Regions from separate parts of the Homo sapiens genome. Here region 1 is linked to region 2. Evidence: fine-mapped expression QTL. Tissue or cell type: whole blood. Region 2 holds a variant in brackets; the other region holds the start of a gene. All regions are shown on one strand. Distances are from middle to middle.

Evidence for each region. PIP is the estimated chance that this variant, and not a neighbour inherited with it, causes the effect.
Region 1: DCPS starts here. The variant in region 2 is fine-mapped to the expression of DCPS in whole blood (INTERVAL, PIP above 0.99). The same link has a PIP of 0.9 or more in fibroblasts.

What each region holds. Positions count from the first base shown.
Region 1 is chr11:126,298,908-126,306,607 of GRCh38, forward strand. It overlaps DCPS (decapping enzyme, scavenger), which reads left to right and starts at 5,153. Exons shown (of 6, transcript NM_014026.6): 1 at 5,153-5,374; 2 at 7,663-7,700. The coding sequence starts at 5,174. TIRAP-AS1 (TIRAP antisense RNA 1) reads right to left here and starts at 5,415. Exons shown (of 2, transcript NR_187388.1): 1 at 5,281-5,415. RefSeq lists a silencer at 5,111-5,240 and an enhancer at 6,899-7,188.
Region 2 is chr11:126,322,295-126,332,997 of GRCh38, forward strand. DCPS (decapping enzyme, scavenger) reads left to right here. Exons shown (of 6, transcript NM_014026.6): 3 at 9,111-9,256. Among named protein-coding and RNA genes, the nearest start is that of TIRAP-AS1, 23 kb to the left of the region's middle. RefSeq lists enhancers at 5,367-6,091, 6,092-6,814. The variant G/A (reference allele first, on the strand shown) is at 4,348.

The DNA.
Region 1 (7,700 bases), 25 kb before region 2:
GAAGAATCATCTGTGGTTATAAATTCTTAGGAGGTTTTTTCCTTCTTCCCTCTGGAACAACGGTTGAAGCAGGCAAGTTTCCTAATCACCTTCTCTCCTTTAGTAGGGCAGCATTTTTCTTTTTTATAAATAGTTGGCCTGGCCAGGCATGGTGGCTCACGCCTATAATCCTAGCACTTTGGGAGGCCAAGGCGAGCAGATCACCCAAGGTCAGGAGTTCGAGACCAGCCTGACCAACGTGGCGAAACTCCGTCTCTACTAAAAATACAAAAAAATTAGCTATGCGTGGTGGTGGGTGCCTGTAATCCCAGCTACTCAGGAGGCTGATGCATGAGAATCGCTTGAATCCAGGCAGCGGAGGTTGCAGTGAGCTGAGATCGCGCCACTGTACTCCAGCCTGGGCGACAGAGTGAGACTCCGTATCCAAAAAAAAAAAAAAAAAAAAAAAATTGTTGGCCCCTTCATTGAGCTAGTGGACCTTCAGGGTTCTTAGCTCTATAGAAAGTTCTGTATCTTAATTCCTCTTTACATAAGCTCAGGTCTTGTCTCTTGTCCCTTGAATCGGGTCCTAGACGTCTAGAGATCAGCAATGGCCCTTAAAATAGCTTCCACCTTAAAAATCCCCTTACCACTCTATAGATTCAAACTCCCACATCATTTTTGGTTCCTGCAAATTTTACTTTTTTGAGAGCTCAGCAACGTAACTAAAAGAATGTTTTAAATTTTACATCCAGAATGTTCGGGTATTTTGTAGCTGACTTGTTTTCAGTTTAGTCTGTTATAATCCCTGAAATGGAACTGGGAAGTATCCAATCCTTCTTTAGACTAAAAAAGAAAAGATTTGGGAGGTTTTTTTTTTTTTTTTTTTTTGAGACAGAGTCTCGCTCTGTCACTCAGGCTGGAGCACAGTGGTGCAATCTTGGCTCATTACAACCTCCGCCTCCAGGTTCAAGCCATTCTCCTGCCTCAGCCTCCCGAGTAGCTGGAATTATAGGTGCCTGCTGCCACACTCAGCTAATTTTTGTATTTTTAATAGAGATGGGGTTTCGCCATGTTAGCCAGGCTAGTCTCAAACTCCTGACCTCAAGTGATCCACCCGCCTTGGCCTCCCAAAGTGCTGGGATTACAGGCGTGAGCCACCGCACCTTGCGTGGGAGAAATTTTAAGATTTCTGAAAAACAATTGAACAGGGCTTTATAATAAATGAGTAAGCTAATACAGCATTGTCTAGTAGAACTTCCTTTGATAATGAAAATGTTCTCCATCTGTGCTCATACGATAGCCACAAGTGGATATCAAGCACTTGCAAAGTGGCTAGTGTAACTGAGGAAATGAATTTTAACTACTACCATAAAGATTCCTTTCACACTGAGGTCTGGTATTTAATAGAACCTCTGGTAGCTGAGGCTTCCTATGAGCTCATCCTTTCCTTGGCATTCTTTTTTTTTAAGAGACAAAGCCTCGCTCTCTTGCCCAGGCTGGAGGGCAGTGGTGTGATTATAGCTCACTGCAGCCTCAAACTTCTGGGCTCAAGTGGTCCTCCCACCTCAGCCTCCTAAGTAGCTGGGACTACAGGTATGAGCCACCACGTGGGGCATGAGCCAGGCCTTTTTGAAGAGTAGAATTCTGGTTTTATATTTTAATCAAAATTATACCCATATTGATTAATTTTGCCGCTAATGAATACATTTCTCTACTATTTCATTTCAAATGTTTCTATTTTGCTCATTATATTTTAGCTACACAGGTCATTCCTTTTGAGACAGAGTCTTGCTCTGTCACCCAGGTTGAAGTGCAGTGGCGCGACCTTGGCTCACTGCAACCTGCACCTCCTGAGTTCAAGTGATTCTCCTGCCTCAGCCTCCCAGGTAGCTGGGATTACAGGCGCACACCACCACACCCAGCTAATTTTTGTATTTTTAGTACAGACTATGTTTCACCATGTTGGCCAGGCTGGTCTCGAGCTCCTGATCTGAAGTGATCCGCCCACCTCAGCCTCCCAAAGTGCTGGGATTACAGGTGTAAGCCACCATGCCCCACGGTCATTCCTATTTTTTAAAAATGTCAAGCACATTACTGCTCTAGGGCCTTTGACAGCTAATATTTACTGTGCCTGGGCTCTTCATATGGCTGATATGGCTGGTTCCTTCTCATCATTCAAGTCTCAGCTCAAATGTCACCTTTTGAGAGGCTGTCCATGATCATCTTATCTAAAGAGCTTGGCCGAGCATGGTGGCTCATGCCTGTAATCCCAACACTTTGGGAGATGGGCAGGTCACCTGAGGTCAGGAGTTTGAGACCAGCCTGGCCAACATGGCAAAACCCCATCTCTACTAAAAATACAAAAATTGGCCAGGTGTGCTAGTGTACGCCTGTAATCCCAGCTACTTAGAAGGCTGAGGCAGAAGAGTCGCTTGAACCTGGGAGGTGAAGGTTGCAGTGAGCCAAGATTGCACCACTGTACTCCAGCCTGGGTGACAGAGTGAGACTCTGTCTCAAAGAAAGAAAAAAAAGGGCGGGGGGGGGGGGCTCCTATCCCCAGGCTCTTTCACACTGTCCAGTTTTGTCCTATTAACAGTACTTGGCCGGGCACGGTGGCTCACGCCTGTAATCCCAGCACTTTGGGAGGCTGAGGCGGGCAGATCACGAGGTCAGGAAATTGAGACCATCCTGGCTAACACGGTGAAACCCCGTCTCTACTAAAAATACAAAAAATTAGCCAGGCGTGGTGGTAGGCCCCTGTAGTCCCAGCTACTTGGGAGGCTGAGGCAGGAGAATGGCGTGAACCTGGGAGGTGGAGCTTGCAGTGAGCCGAGATCGCACCACTGCACTCCAGCCTGGGCGACAGAGGGAGACTCCGTCTCAAAAAAAAACAAAAAACAAAAAACAAAAAACAGTTCTTAATCATTATCTTGTTTACCTCATGTACCCCATTTGAATATACATTTTATGAAAGAAGAGGCCTCGTTGTCTTGCTTAGAACTAATAGCCGCTGGCACATGGAAAATGGAGACCTGGAAAGGTTAAGAGACTTTTCCAAAGTTGCACAGCTAGTCAGTGTTGGGGCCCGACTTCATGGCTCTCAATTATGGGCTCTTTTTGTTAAAACATAGCTACTTTGGCAGGGTGCGGTGGCTCACGCCTGTAATGCCAGCTCTTTGGGAGGCCCAGGCGGGCGGATCACGAGGTCAGGAGTTCGAGACCAGCCTGGCCAACATGGTGAAACCCTGACTCTACTAAAAATACAAAAAATTAGCCGGGAGTGGTAGCAGCCGCCTGTAATACCAGCTACTCAGGAAGTTGAGGCAGGAGAATCGCTTGAACCTGGAGGCAGAGGTTGCAGTGAGCCGAGATCGCGCCATTGCACTCCAGCCTGGGGGACAGATCCTAAGTCTCTCCTAATAATGCTTTCTGCATCACACACACACACACACACACACACAAAGTAGTCCTTTTTTTTTTTTTTTTTTTTTGAGATGGAGTCTCGCTCTGTCACCCAGGCTGGAGTGCAGTGGCGCGATCTCAGCTAACTGCAAGCTCCGCCTCCCGGGTTCACGCCATTCTCCTGCCTCAGCCTCCCAAGTAGCTGGGACTACAGGCGCCCGCCACCACGCCTGGCTAATTTTTTTGTATCTTTAGTAGAGACGGAGTTTCACCACGTTAGCCAGGATGGTCTCGATCTCCTGACCTCGTGATCCGCCCACCTCGGCCTCCCAAAGTGCTGGGATTACAGGCATGAGCCACCGCGCCTGGCCTAAAGTAGTCTTTTATCCAACTCCTAATCTATATTTCTGGTAGAAGTAATCCAAAAATCAAACTAACACATGGTACACTTTGTTATTGACCAAAAACTGACTGTAAATTGCATCTTGTTGCTAACGTTGAGAATGGCAAAAACTGTCCCACACCCATGAGATCTGTCTGAAAACCTAAACTCAAATCACTGGCAAAATAAATGTGTGGCTGACTGAAGCGATGTAAGTACCAACTCTTTTTTTTTTTCTTTGAGACGTAGTCTCGCTCTGTCGCCAGGGTGGAGTGCAGTGGTGCGATCTCGGCTCACTACAATACTCCGCCCGCGTTCAAGCGATTTTCCTGCCTCAGCCTCCCGAGTAGCTGGGACTACAGGCGCGGGCCACCACGCCCGGGTAATTTTTGTATTTTTAGTAGAGACGGGGTTTCACCATGTTGGCCAGGATGGTCTCGGTATCTTAACCTCGTGATCCGTCCACCTCGACCTCTCGAAGTGCTGGAATTACAGGCGTGAGCCACCGCGCCTGTCCGTAAGTACCAACTCTTCACAAAATTTAGATCTGTTAAATAACACCAGTGAAAAACGGGCTAACCAGAAACAATGGTCACCAAAGAAACCCTCAACAGCAGAAGTTACAAGTAATAATTTTATATGGCAAAAAAAAAAAAAAAAAAAAAAAAAAAGAGAAACGAAACCCTGGGAGACGAATCATACTGCAAATCATATCCCTGGGTAGCAGGGCAGAAATACAGGTAAACAAAATAGAGAGGAGGGGGATGCCTCTAGCCCGGAAATAAGTGGGTGGTGGAGATGGTTCTTCTGGCCATATTCGTTTACCTTTTTTGTCAGCAGAAAAGTACTGAGTCTACAAAGTAAAAAACTGACCACGATGAAAATTTCTGCAAAGTAATTAAAATGGGAGAAAAATGGAAATGGCTTAAATACTCGGTATAAAAAATCGACCAAGGAATCAAATGGGCTCACGGATTTGCGTCAGAAACGTTGCTTCCCCGATAATTGGTCAACGTCGGTGTAACTATGATTAAAATGTCAGTATTCAAACAAGGGCTCCAACACTACCGTGGCCCAAGGGCGTCTTCGGCTCCCACCCCGGGGCGTGGGCCTGGGGGTCCCTCTTCACTGCGCAGCCACCTCTAGCCCGCCGCTTTCGGGACTCTCAGCCTTCTTTTCCCTTCCCTGAGGGCCGGCCGGCACCACAACGGGGCCAAAGGCAGTAACTCGGTTGAAAGGCGCGCCCTGGGACAGGTCAGCGGGCTCCGCCATGCGCGGCACGCATCCCGCAGGAGCGGGTGCCAGAGCAGGGTAGGCCGGGAGTTAGCAGCCCAGCCAGGCCGCTGGACTCGGGCTAGGGGCGGGGCCAGCGCAGGGGGCGCAGGCGCACACCGCCTCCGCGGCAGCATGGCGGACGCAGCTCCTCAACTAGGCAAGAGGAAGCGCGAATTGGACGTGGAGGAGGCCCACGCCGCCAGCACAGAGGAAAAGGAGGCAGGAGTTGGAAATGGTACCTGTGCTCCTGTCCGCTTACCGTTCTCCGGCTTCAGACTGCAGAAGGTGCTGAGGGAGTCTGCGCGGGACAAAATCATTTTCCTACACGGGAAGGTACCAGGAGGCAACCCTGAGGTGGGATGCGGGAAGCAGTGAACCAATCATCGCCTCGGAGGCAGATTTTTTTTTTTCGGATCTCGGCTGGAAAATACCAATCATTATCACTCCGGGGAGGCGGGAGTGCGCCACTAGAATGCATAGAGGGGCGGTGAAAGGCGGCAAGATTGCCTTTGAAATTAAGGCAATGAACACATCTAGCTCTAATTTTTCTAATGTCTCCACTAGAAATATCTACTGGGAGAGTGCATTGCAGATTAAAGATCACATGTTACATTCCCCAAGCCATTCATCATCCATTTATGTATACAGGGACTAGGAACCCAGTCAATGTTAGATGTCTCGCTCATCCCTGTCCGTGGAAACGACATGAGACTGTAGGAGATGTGATCTCTGCCTTACGCGACTTCAGCCGTAACAGGAGAACAATATATTATAATTGTTAATTCAGTTCTACGCACGCACTTTCATGCATGCCAGACACTAAACTAGGTACTGGGGATGTGGAGACGAAAGTTACCATCCCTGATCTTCAGGACTACGGAATATTTCTGGCGAGACAGATACACACAGCTTGCTCCAATACCAACGTGCTCAGCAATCTGGCAGGGGCTGAGGAGAGATGGAGACCATTCCAGGAACTAGTGAGGAGGCCTAGCCAGAGCAGATATGGGGGTTCCCCAGAAACTAGTGAGGAGGCCTAGCCAGGGCAGATAAGGGGGTTCCCTAGAACTACTAGCAGGAACTCTCACCTTTGGGAGGATCAGGGAACCTTGGCCTAGGCTTCCATGCCTCTGTGTGTATCTGGTTTTTAAATTTTTATTTATTTATTTATTTATTTTTGAGACGGAGTCTCTCCTCTCTGTCACCCAGGCTAGAGTGCAGTGATGTGATCTCGGCTCACTGCAACCTCTGCCTCCCGAGTTCAAGCTATTCTACCTGCCTCAGCCTGCCCAATAGCTGGGATTACAGGCCCCCGCCACCATGCCCAGCTAATTTTTGTATTTTTAGTAGAGATGGGGGTTTCACCATGTTGGCCAGGCTGGTCTCGAACTCCTGACCTCAGGTGATCCGCCTGCCTCTGCCTCCCAAAGTGCTGGGATTACAGGCGTGAGCCACCGCACCCGCCTTTTTTTTTTTTTTTTTTTTTTTTGAGATGGAGTTTCACTCTTCTTGTCCAGGCTGGAGTGCAATGGCACTATCTTGGCTCACTGCAACCTCCACTTTCTGGATTCAAGTGATTCTCCTGCCTCAGCCTCCCAAGTAGCTGGGATTACAGGCATCTGCCACCATGCCCAGCTAATTTTCGTATTTTTAGTAGAGACAGGGTTTCACCATGTTGGCCAGGCTGGTCTTGAACTCCTGACCTCAGGTGATCCACCCACCTCTGCCTCCCAAAGTGCTGGGATTATAGGCATGAGCGACTGCGCTGGGCCTTGTTTTTTGTTGTTTTTTGTTTGTTTGTTTGTTTGTTTTTGTTTCTTGTTTTCTGTTTTTTTGTATGCGATTCTGTCTGGTTCTCTCAGCCCAGCTGTCTTCAGTGTGCAGCACCTGTTGAAGGTGTTAGTCATGAGAGCCTTCGAGCTAGGAGTCACTTGGGAGACCTAGGTTCTGGTTTCTGTTTCAATGCTGACTGTTCATGTGACCTTGGGCAAGTCACTCAAGGTCTGTTTTTCATCTTCTGAAATGGGGAGAACTTGACAGAGGTCTTGTAAGCCTAAAATGGAAGACAACTGAGAAGCCTTGTATTCTGGGGAAGAAAGGTGTGAGAACTGCCACAAGGATTTGGGTGGAGATGCCTTCTCTGGCTGGGCATGGTGGCTCACACCTGTAATCCCAGCACTTTGGGAGGCTGAGGCAGGCATATCATTTGAGATCGGGAGTTCAAGACCAGCCTGGCCAACATGGTGAAACCCCATCTCTACTAAAAATACAAAAATTAGCCAGATGTGGTGGCATGCGCCTGTAATCCCAGCTACTCAGGAGGCTGTGGCGGGAGAATTGTTTGAGCCCAGGAGGTGGAGGTTGCAGTGAGCCAAGATCGCGCCATTGCACTCCAATCCGGGCAACAGAGCAACACTCCATCTCAAAAAAAAAAAGATGCCTTCTCTGAGAAAAGAAATGTGAAATGTGAGTGCCATTGGCTAGACTTCCCCAGAGGGAAGACTTCAGGGAAGGAAATCCCAAGTATTGGGAATTCAAAGGCCCTGGGAGCTTCTGTCTTGCTCTCCAGAGTCTCATCGTGGTTCTGCCCTTGAGCCCACTGATGATGCCTCTGCCCACAGGTGAATGAGGCCTCTGGGGATGGGGATGGAGAGGATGC
Region 2 (10,703 bases):
ACTTTGTCGCCCAGGCTGGAGTGCATTGGTGCCATCTTGGCTCACTGCAACCTCCGTCTCCTGGGTTCAAGCAATTCTCCTGTCTCATTCTCTCTAGTAGCTGGGATTACAGGCGCACACCACCACGCCCGGCTCATTTTTGTATTTTTAGTAGAGATGGGGTTTCGCCATGTTGGCCAAGTTGGTCTTGAACTCCTGACCTCAGGTGATCTGCCTGCCTGAACCTCCGAAAGGGCTGGGATTACAGGTGTTAGCCACTATGCCCAGCCAGCATTCAGATTTTCTTTCTATCCTAAAATTCCTTTTTTTTTTTTTTTGAGACGAAGTCTCACTGCGTTGCCAGGCTGGAGTGCAGTGGCACAATCTCGGCTCACTGCAACCTCCGCCTCCGAGGTTCAAGTGATTCTCCTGCCTCAGCTTCCTGAGTAGCTGGGACTACAGGCGCGTGCCATCACGCCCAGCTAATTTTTTTTATTTTTAGTAGAGACGGGGTTTCACCATGTTGGCCAGTCTATCCTAAAATTCTTTAGCAAGAAGCAAAAAAATTTTTTTGAGACAATGTCTCACTTTGTTGCCAGGTTGGAGTCCAGTGGTACAGTCATAGCTCATGGCAGCCTCAAACTCCCGAGTTCAAGTGATTCTCCCACTTCACCTTCCCGAGTAGTGGCGACCAGAGGCAGGTACCACCACACGTGGCTAATTTATTATTTTTTGTAGAGATGGGGTCTTGCCATGTAGCGCAGGCTGGTCTCGAACTCCTGGGCTCAATAGATTTCCCCCCTGTTTCAGCCTCCCAAAGTGTTGGGATTACAGGCATGAGCCACCACACCCAGCCACCAAATTCCTAAGTGTGACAGTAGAATAAATATATTTTCAGATGTTTCAAGTCTCAAAATATATCTTGCTTGCACCATGTCTCTGGGCACAACTTGAGTTTGTGATTCACAGTTTACAAATTTGATAATTCTGTACTGTTACCAATAGTTACAAGAGACCTTTTTAATCCTCTTATCTGGGAAACAATTTTCAAAATACAATTATTGTTTTACCTTGAGCGGTAGAAAGTTCAGCTTTAGAAACATTGTGTTTATTTCCATTGTAATATTATATATGCAAGCTGATGCATGTATTTTTCAAAGCAGGTGTACTTTAATGGTTAAAAAAATACACATGATGCAGAAAGTTCTTTGAACAAGTAAGGCATTCAAACAATTCTAAATGTATTAAAGTTGCATTTCTTTCTTTTCTTTTTTTTTTTTGAGACAGGGTCTTGCTCAGTCACCCAGGCTGGAGCGCAGTGGCACGATCACAGCTCACTGCAGCCTTGACCTTCCAGGCTCAAGCGATCCTCCCACCACCTCAGCCACCAGAGTAGCTGGGACTACAGGCATGTGCTATCACACCCAGCTAATTTTTGTATTTTTTGTAGAGATAGGGTTTTGCCATGTTGCCCAGGCTGGTCTCGAACTCCTGGGCTCAGGTGATCCAAAGTGCTAGGATTATAGGCATGAGCCACCAAACCTGACCCTAAAGTTGTTTTTTTGTTTGTTTTTTGAGATGGTGTCTTGCTCTGTTGCCCAGACTAGAGTGCAGTGGCGCCATCTCGGCTCACCGCAACCTCTACCTCCCAGGTTCAAGCGATTCTTCCGCCTCAGCCTCCCGAGTATCTGGGATTACAGAAGCAAGCCACCATGCCTGGCTAATTTTTTTGTGTTTTTGTAGAGATGGGGTTTCACCATATTGGCCAGGCTGGTCTTGAACTTCTGACCTCAGGTGATCCGTCCGCCTTGGCCTCCCAAAGTACTGGGATTACAGGTGTGAGCCACTGCACCCAGCCCTAAAGTTGTATTTCTACAGTTATTGTATTCACATAACAGATTGCAGTAGCAAAATTTTTTTTTAGTATAATGTTTAAATTTTATTTTTAACTGACAAATAATTGTGCATAATGATTTCTGTTTTATGCTCTGGTGGAAATTTGAATACCTATCTGCTGATCTACTTGGTAAATTATTTCAGAGAATTGAAAATATTTTCACAGTTTTCCTAATGAAAATTCCAAGAATTGGATTTATAATAATAATAATGCCACACTAAAGTTTGAGAATTACTTCTGGGGGTGGCAACCGGAAGTTCTGGGAAGACACATTGTTCATGTGCCTGTTGAGTTTTTTTTTTTAGACAGGGTCTCACTCTGTCCCCTAGGCTGGAGTGCAGTGGCGAGATCTGCGCTCATCACAACCTCCGTTTCGCAGCTCAAGGGATCTCCCACTTCAGCCTTCTGAGTAGCTGGGACTACAGGCATGCACCACCATGCCTAGCTAATTTTTCTGCCTTTTTTTTTTTTTTTTTTTTTTTTTTGGTAAAGACGGGATCTCACTATGTTGCTCAGGCTAGTCACAAATCCATGGTCTCAAGCAATCTCCCTGCCTTGGCCTCCCAAATTGCTGGGACTATAGGCATGAGCCACTGTGCCTGGCTTGCCTGATGAGTTTAACACATAAGAGGAGATTTATGTAAACAGGGAAGTGGATTTGGGGATGAATTAGTGACATGTTTATAGAAAATTAAACAAGTGGCCAGAATTTGGGTGGAGATGCCTTCTCTGGCTGGGCACGGTGGCTCACACCTATATCCCAGAATTTTGGGAGGCCGAAGCGGGTGGATCACCTGAGGTCAGGAGTTCGAGACCAGCCTGACTAACATGGTGAAACCCTATCTCTACTAAAAATACAAAAATTAGCGGGGCATGGTGGTGGGCACCTGTAATCCCAGCTACTCACTCGGGTTGCTGAGGCACGAGAATCGCTTGAACCCAGGAGGTGGAGGTTGCAGTGAGCCAAGATCGTGCCATTGCACTCCAGCCTGGGAGACACAGTGAGACTCAGTTTCGAAAAAAGAAAAAAAATTAAACAGTAAAAATGTAATGACTTATTCCATACACCAAAAATTATGCTGAAGAGAAGAAAATAATCACAGTAACTATGGCAGTGAACAGCATTTACATCATCATCATAGCATCAGTGTTGAATACTGATTTATCAAAAATTGTGGTAAAGTTGTACTGTGAGGTTGAGGGTTAGGAAGTATCTGTGTATATGTGTGTGTTTGTGCATGTGTGTGCATTTGGTGAAGGGATGGTAAAAAGAGATAAATTCTCATCTTCCTTAATGAGAAGTCAGTAAGTAATAGTAGAAGTTAAAAGTCAAGTAGGAACAAGATATAAAAGTATAATTTAGAATTCTGGAAGTATATAACCAAAGAGGTGGCCAGAAGTGTTGAAAGTGGTGCCTTTGAAGGAGCTGGAAATTGGGAGCAGGGAGGAGCAGAAAAGTGTTTTTGAAAACAAGCTTCATTTGACTCTTTGACATATATGCAAGTACAATTTGAATTAAAAAGACAAACACAGTGTTAAAAAGCATGACAGGGGAACTCTGTAAGGAGTGTTGGAGGTGCTCTTAATATATTGTGAAGATTTTCCAGGGATAGATTTTTGAGGGTTTATGGTTATCCCAGGCTGTGTTTGGAGAATGCCAGCAGGAAGGCCAGGCGCGGTGGCTCACACCTGTAATCCCAGCACTTTGGGAGGCTGAGGTGGGCGGATTACGAGATCAGGAAATCGAGGCCATCCTGGCCAACTTGGTGAAACCCTGTCTCTACTAAAAATACAAGTATTAGCCAGGCGTGGTGGCGTGGGCCTGTAATCCTAGCTACTGGGGACGCTGAGGCAGGAGAATCGCTGAAACCCAGGAGGCGGAGGTTGCAGTGAGCCAAGATTGCACCACTGCACTCCAGCCTGGTGACAGAGCAAGATTCCATCTCAAAAAATACATATAAATAAATAAATAATGAGAATCCCAGCAGGAGGGTGGGACTGGGGAGTTGGTCAGTTCTCTGGCTACCAGGAAGAGCTCTGGGCAGGGGTGTTGCCAGGTATCACTCATCCTGAGCAGGCGGTGCCCTCAGTCCACTTGCCAGACAGCGTATGGCAGGGAGAGCCTGGCAAGGCCACCGGGCCTCTTCTGCTGACCTGCCGTGGGCAGATGGGGCTGCCAGTGTGGGTCCCGGCCCTGAGCACCACACGGGGCTGTGGGTCCTTGGGGGCCACTCCAGGCCCTGGGCCTCAGTTTCCTCATATGTAAAATGCAATCATAATAATACCCGTTCATGTTGGTCATAAGGAGTAAATGAGTTCATTTTTGCGTGTCAGGCTTAGAATAGTGTTATAGGGCTGAGGTTCCGAAAGGTATTGACACCTTAAAAAAAATTTTCCTACTAAAAAAAATTCCAATCCTGCAGAAAAGTTGTAAGAATAGTACAAAGAACTCCCTTATAAAAGGACTTCAC[G/A]GCCGGGCGCAGTGGCTCACGCCTGTAATCCCAGCACTTTGGGAGGCCGAGGCATGTGGATCACGAAGTCAGGAGATCGAGACCATCCTGGCTAACACGGTGAAACCCTGTCTCTACTAAAAATACAAAAAATTAGCCAGGCGTGGTGGCAGGCGCCTGTAGTCCCAGCTACTCAGGAGGCTGAGGCAGGAGAATGGCGTGAGCCCGGGAGGCGGAGCTTGCAGTGAGCCGAGATCACGCCACTGCACTCCAGCCTGGGCGACAGAGCGAGACTCTGTCTCAAAAAAAAAAAACAAAAAACAAAATAAAAGGACTTCACCTGTTAACATTTGCCACATTGGCTTTTTCTGTCTCCACATATACGTAGAATAATGATAACGATGGATATAAAAAAGGGTAAAATTATTAATTTCAGGAGATTTCCCATTCGTATGAGACTTCTGTGACATACAGTCCATAGTTAAGTTGTGCCAGTTGCTTCAGTGCAGGGCGCCCCTCCCCGGATCCCAACCCCGGATCTAATCCAATCCCTTTAGTCCCGTCTCTTTAGTCTCCCTTCATCTGGAGCAATTCCTCAGCCTTCTTTGTCCTTCCTAACTTTGACATTTTTGTAGTGTTATAAAGCCACTAGTTTTGTTGAATGCCCCTGGATTTTGGTTTGCTGATATTTCCTCATGACTGGACTCAGGTTATGCGTTTTTGGCCAGAATTCCACATGATCAGGAGGCACATGATGTCGGCGTGCCCAGCAGGGGTGACGGTGACGCCCATGGCCTGGCCGAGGTGGTAGCCTTTTGCTGCTGTAAAGCGACTCGTGTTCCCTTTGTAATTAATAAGTAATCTATGGGAGATATTTTTGAGACTGTGCCTGTGTATCGTGTTTCCCAACGTGTTTTCACCTGATGGTTTGATTGTTTATTGAGCATTGACTCCTGACCAAACTCCTCCTGAAGTTCAGCTGCAGGTCAACATCTTGACGGGCATTGAGGTAAACACCAGCGTTCATTGTTTTTTGGCTGCCATCGTAAACCTTAGCATTAGGAAATATATTGATTTGTATCAGAGAGGTTTTATTTCATCTGGGACAAAAATGCTCTTCCTGGGTTTAAGTCGAAAAGGCCAGATTCATTGATTCATTTGTTCACTAAGTATTTACTGAGTGCTTACTGTATGCCAGGCACTATTCCAGGTGCTGGGGACAAATTGTTTTCTTCCGGAAGCTGCATAGTAGTTGGGGAGTCAGACAGTCCATCCACCTGCTGCTGTGAGGGAGTGAGAAGTGAAGAGGAAGCAAGCTGGTGGAGGAGACAGAGGACCCCGAGGTTAGGGCTGCTGTTTTACCAGAGCTGACCGAGCCTGAGGAGCTGGCCTCAGAGCAGAGGCCTGGATGAAGCGAGGAGCAGCGTGGCTCGTTGGGTAGGAGGGTCAGCTCGGCCGTGGGAGCGGCCAGGGCACGGCCTGGAGAGGAGCCCATGGCTGACGCGAGTTAGTGGGTCAGTGGGGAGCCGGCGCGGCTGGAGCAGAGGCCCTAAGCGGGAGAGAGGCAGTGCATGAAGGTGGAAAGAGGGCCAGGGCGAGGTGACCAACAGCCTCGTAGTCCACGGCAGGAAGCGCGGGAGCTGTGGAGCAGGGGACAGTTTGAGGGTGGCAGCTCCCACCTCAGTGTGGCCCTGACTGAGGCTTTCGGTGGAGACCTGAGGGAAGCCAGGCCCCTTAGGAGTGAGTGCTCTAGGGGGACGTGGGGAGCTCTGAGAGTCCTGCAGTCAGGTTCCCATCCCTGCAGGTGCACCTCAGGAAAGGCAGGAGGATGGCAGGAAGTGAGCAGTTGGAAAATAAGCACCTGTGGATGCTCTTGCTGCTGAGGGGAGGCGGGAGGGGCTGGCTGGGTGAGACGCCAGTTTCCCTGCACCCTGGGTGGCTGGGGCAGGTCTCCCACAGGCCTCGGCAGACCAGGGCATGCTCACAGGCCGGGTGGCTTTCTGATCTGGAGCAGCCAGGAGCCCCAGGCTGGGAGCCCGGCTGGGTGACCCTGCCCGCAGAACCCGGCTGCTCTCCAGCGCCCGCTCTGCCTCTGTGCCCTGCCCATCTCTCCCCCACTCTCAGGGAGCTCCACTGCCCAACCCAGGCAACGGAGGCAACAGCGGAGAGAATCCAAGCTAGCCTGGGGGGAGCGCTTTTCTCCATGTGAGGCACTTCCTGAATCTTTCCTTCTACTGACTCGTTTAATTCTCCCAACAGCCCTGGAAGGTAGGTGCTGTTATTGTTACCCCAGATTGTAGAAGTCAGGAGACTGAAGCCACAGACAGTGTCAGTCACTAGCCTGAGGTTACGCCACTAATAAGTGCAGAGCCAGGACTTGCACCCAGGCTGACTGGCTCCAAAATCTCTGTTCTCATCCACCAAGCTCCACTGCAGATGTATGGATTTCCCTCAGGTCCACTGCAAGGGCCAAGGTGGTGCCGTTCAGTCTACTTCAAGCAGTCTCCCGCCTCTTGAGATCTTGGTGTGCCTGACCTCTGACCTCTGGCCCATGACCTATGACGCTGAGCTGTTAGAGAACAGAGTGAGAAGCAAGAAAGAGTCTTTTGCTGCTCCTCAGAGAGTTGTGAGGAGGCCTTCATGCCCCTTTTTCAGGGTCAGATCCGGGGATTCCCAGGATTGGGTGACATTTATTTAGCAACTCGTGATCCAGCTGACACGTTTTATTGAATGTAAACAACTCTGTGAGGCAGATTTGATGACCACCCTTTAATAGGTGAGGAAGCCAAGGCTCTAAGACGTTAAGCCCCATGCCCAAGGGTACACAGCCAGTATGGAGAGTCATGTGGCCAGCCTGGGGCCAGTGGCCATGTCTTCCCACTGTGCTGCTGTGCCACCCAGAGCTGAGGGCCTGGGATGTTTGATGGGACAGAAGCCACGTGCCTGGTATGTCATCTCTGTGCATCCCCACTGGGACTTGGAAGTAGAAATTGGAAGTAGCCTGTGGTGTTGCAGGAGCACTGGCTTTAGGGTGAGATGGCCTCAGTTCCAGGTTCGCCTCTGCCACGTTTCACGGTGTGATACTGGATGACTCTTTTGAGTCCCAGCCCACCCTCTTCACTGACGTATGAAAGCGGGGTTAAAACCACCTATGACCTCAGACCAAATATGAAAGTATAGGTTGATAGTTCTTAGCCGGGTTTTGCGGTGTGTGAGTGAGTATGAGGACTTCGTGGTGGTGAAATGTGCCCGCTGGGTTTTCAGCTCTCTCGGGTTTCCCTGGGAGAGCCTATCCGAACCCAGATTAAGAAAGTCAGAGGGAACCATGGGTCTTTTGAGAAAGATCCAAGCTGATTTGGAAATACCCCTAAGATCTATGTTAAAACACAATGTATACATGTTAGAGTAATGATGACAATTGTACCAGATGTTTTTAAAAATAAAGGAAAGGACTTAACCAAAACCAGGTGGTTTTGGACCAGGAAGCTAGCCTAGAGTCTGTTTAGGAAAACTGCAAGACATCCTTCTAGTTTAAAACTGTGCTTCTCACCTGGGGACACTTTTTCCTTTCAGGGGACACATTGGCAATGTCTGGAGACATTTTGGGTTGTCACAACTTGGGGAGGGTGCTACTAACATCCCAACAGAGGCCACAGGGATGCAGCTGAACATCCTTCAATGCACAGGACAGCCCCTGCAACAGAATTATCCAGGCCAAAATGTCAGTGGTGCTGAGATTGAGAAACCCTGGATTAAACATCACAGCACTTATGTGGTGTTTACTGTGTGCCAGACATTGTTTTAAGAACTTCACAGGTAATTGACTTGTTTAATCCTCCCAGCCTTATGACACAGGAGCTTTTACTATCCTCATTTGGCAGATGAAGAAGTAGGGGCACCAAGAGGTTAAACAGCTGAACCGTGCTCCCGGGTGGGGCCAAGGTCCCATTCAGAATAAGGAGCAGGCAGAGCCAGGACTTGAACTCAGTCTGGCTGCAGAGTCTGTGCCTGGAACCACTGCGCTCTGCTGCACTGCCCATCATTAAGGGGACTACTGGGCTTTAAACCATATATATATATATATATATATATATATATATTTTTTTTTTTTTTTTTTTTTTTTTTTTTTTTTTGAGATAGAGTTTCACTCTTGTTGCCCAGGCAGGAGTGCAATGGTGCAATCTGGGCTCACTGCAACCTCTGCCTCCCAGGTTCAAGTGGTTCTCCCGCCTCAGCCTCCTGAGTAGCTGGGATTACAGGCATGCGCCACCACGCCCGGTTAATTTTGTATCTTTAGTAGAGATGGGGTTTCTCCACGTTGGTCAGGCTGGTCTCGAACTCCTGACCTCAGGTGATCCGCCTGCCTCGGCCTCCCAAAGTGCTGGGATTACAGGCGTCAGCCACTGCGCCCGGCCTTTAAGCCATATTTTCAGCTTTGGGTCCAGAAAGCCACATACCTAGAAATTTGGTATGTGAGAAGAGTTAGAGACCTCTCATTCCTGTGCCTGGAAGATGGAGCAGGAAGGGCTGGGGTTTGCCTGATGAGGGGCCCAGTGACCCACAGGTAAGAACCTTGTGTTTTCCAGATTCTGAGTGTGGCTCAGCTCGTGAATGCAGTGGCACAAGGCACTCTGTGGGAGTGGATCTTGGGTGCATGATCCTCTTGGATTTTGGCTTCCCTCAGGGAATCAAAGCCAGGGTGGGAGTTCTCTCCTCACCGTGGTGCCTGTGGCATAGAGAGTGGGCATTGCTTCCCTGTCACGGGCTGTGCTGTATCATTGCAGATGTAAAGACGACCGTGGTTTACCCTGCCACAGAGAAACACCTGCAGAAGTACCTGCGCCAGGACCTCCGCCTGATCCGAGAGACGGGAGATGACTACAGGAATATTACTTTACCCCACCTGGAGTCCCAGAGCCTCAGCATCCAGGTGACTGGCTGCATGTCTCAGACGCAGAGCACTGCTCCCGTGGCTGGTGCCTCCTCTTACGAGTGTCTATTGGGGTCATATTAGGGGCCAGGCGCTGTGCTGGGCGAGGGGATGGGGGTACAGTAGAGAGCATGGCGGACAGAATCCCCACCTCGTGCAGCTTACATCCCATGCACAGTCACACGGTGTGTGACCATACACAGATATCTCAGGATCTATGTGCTCTGTGAGATAATGAGGGCTGCAGAGAGAAATAGACAGGATAAGTGGGACCAGAAGGCCTGGGGCGGGCAATTGCCATTTTATATCGCATGGCGAGAGAAGGCTTTGGGGGTGGGGGAACTGATGCTGGTCTTGGTCCCACCTGATGTGCTTGGGCATGCCATGGAGGCTCTCTGGGGACCTCAAAGCAATCCAGTCCTTTGGAAGAATGTGTGTCTGCTCTGCAGTAGCCTTGATCCAGCCTCGGGATGACTGTGCCATTGCTTTGGGTCCATGAATGGGTAAAAGGCTGATGTTGAGTGAGTCCCACCCTGTCCAGACTCTTATTCCTGGTTTCACCTGCGGCAAACCGGCCTGCAGGATCTCAGTCTCAGAGGAAAAACTCTTCCCTCACCGACTCCCCCTTGCATTCGTCCAAAAGAAGGCAGGACCCCATTGGCCCCGGGGATTTGGTGCAGGGACTCCATTCACAAGCTGGCAGTCGTCTGGCCAGGCCAGATGCAAGGCCATTTAGCTCCAAGATCCTGACTCCTCCCTGGGCCTAGGCCCAGCGCCAACTGGAGCCTCTGCCTGGAACTGGCCCCATGTGAGTACTCAGAGTTAAATATGACTGATGCTTATTGATGAGTCAGTTTCTTGCCCACTCACTGACTCTGACACTGTGCCTTGTCTTTATCACTCACCCTTGTTCTCTTCGAGCATTTCTCACTTTTCTCCCCAAGATTCAGGTCACTGTGGTGGAGGGTGTTGTGATGTGAGGAACTCACAGCCACTCCTCCCTGGCCCAGAAGAAGGGAGGGTACGCTGTGTGTGTGGGCACTGCAAGGTGAATTGTACTTGACAGGAGTAAGGAAAGGGAGGCTGACAGGGCCTGCAGGAATGAAGTTTCCTTGGGAGACCTGTGTGCCGCCAGCCCCCTTCCCCAGCCTGGTTCAGCCCTGGTCTCCCTGGGCAGCAGTTTGCGTGGGGTGCATCTGGCTCAAGCTGACTTGTTTGTTGTTGTTGTTGTTGTTTGTTTGTTTGTTTTTAAAGTCCCAGCACTTGTTCTGTTTTCCAAGTGAAAAGGAACTATATCTCCACCTTCTTAGAGTTTCTGCTGTTCAGGGTCCTAGGGAATCTCCTGGAACAGTTGTTCTGTTGTGCTGGTTGTGCAGACCTGAGATTCAAGTAAGGAAGCCCTGATGTGGTTGGTGTGAGTAGCTGGGATTACAGGTGCTTGCCACCA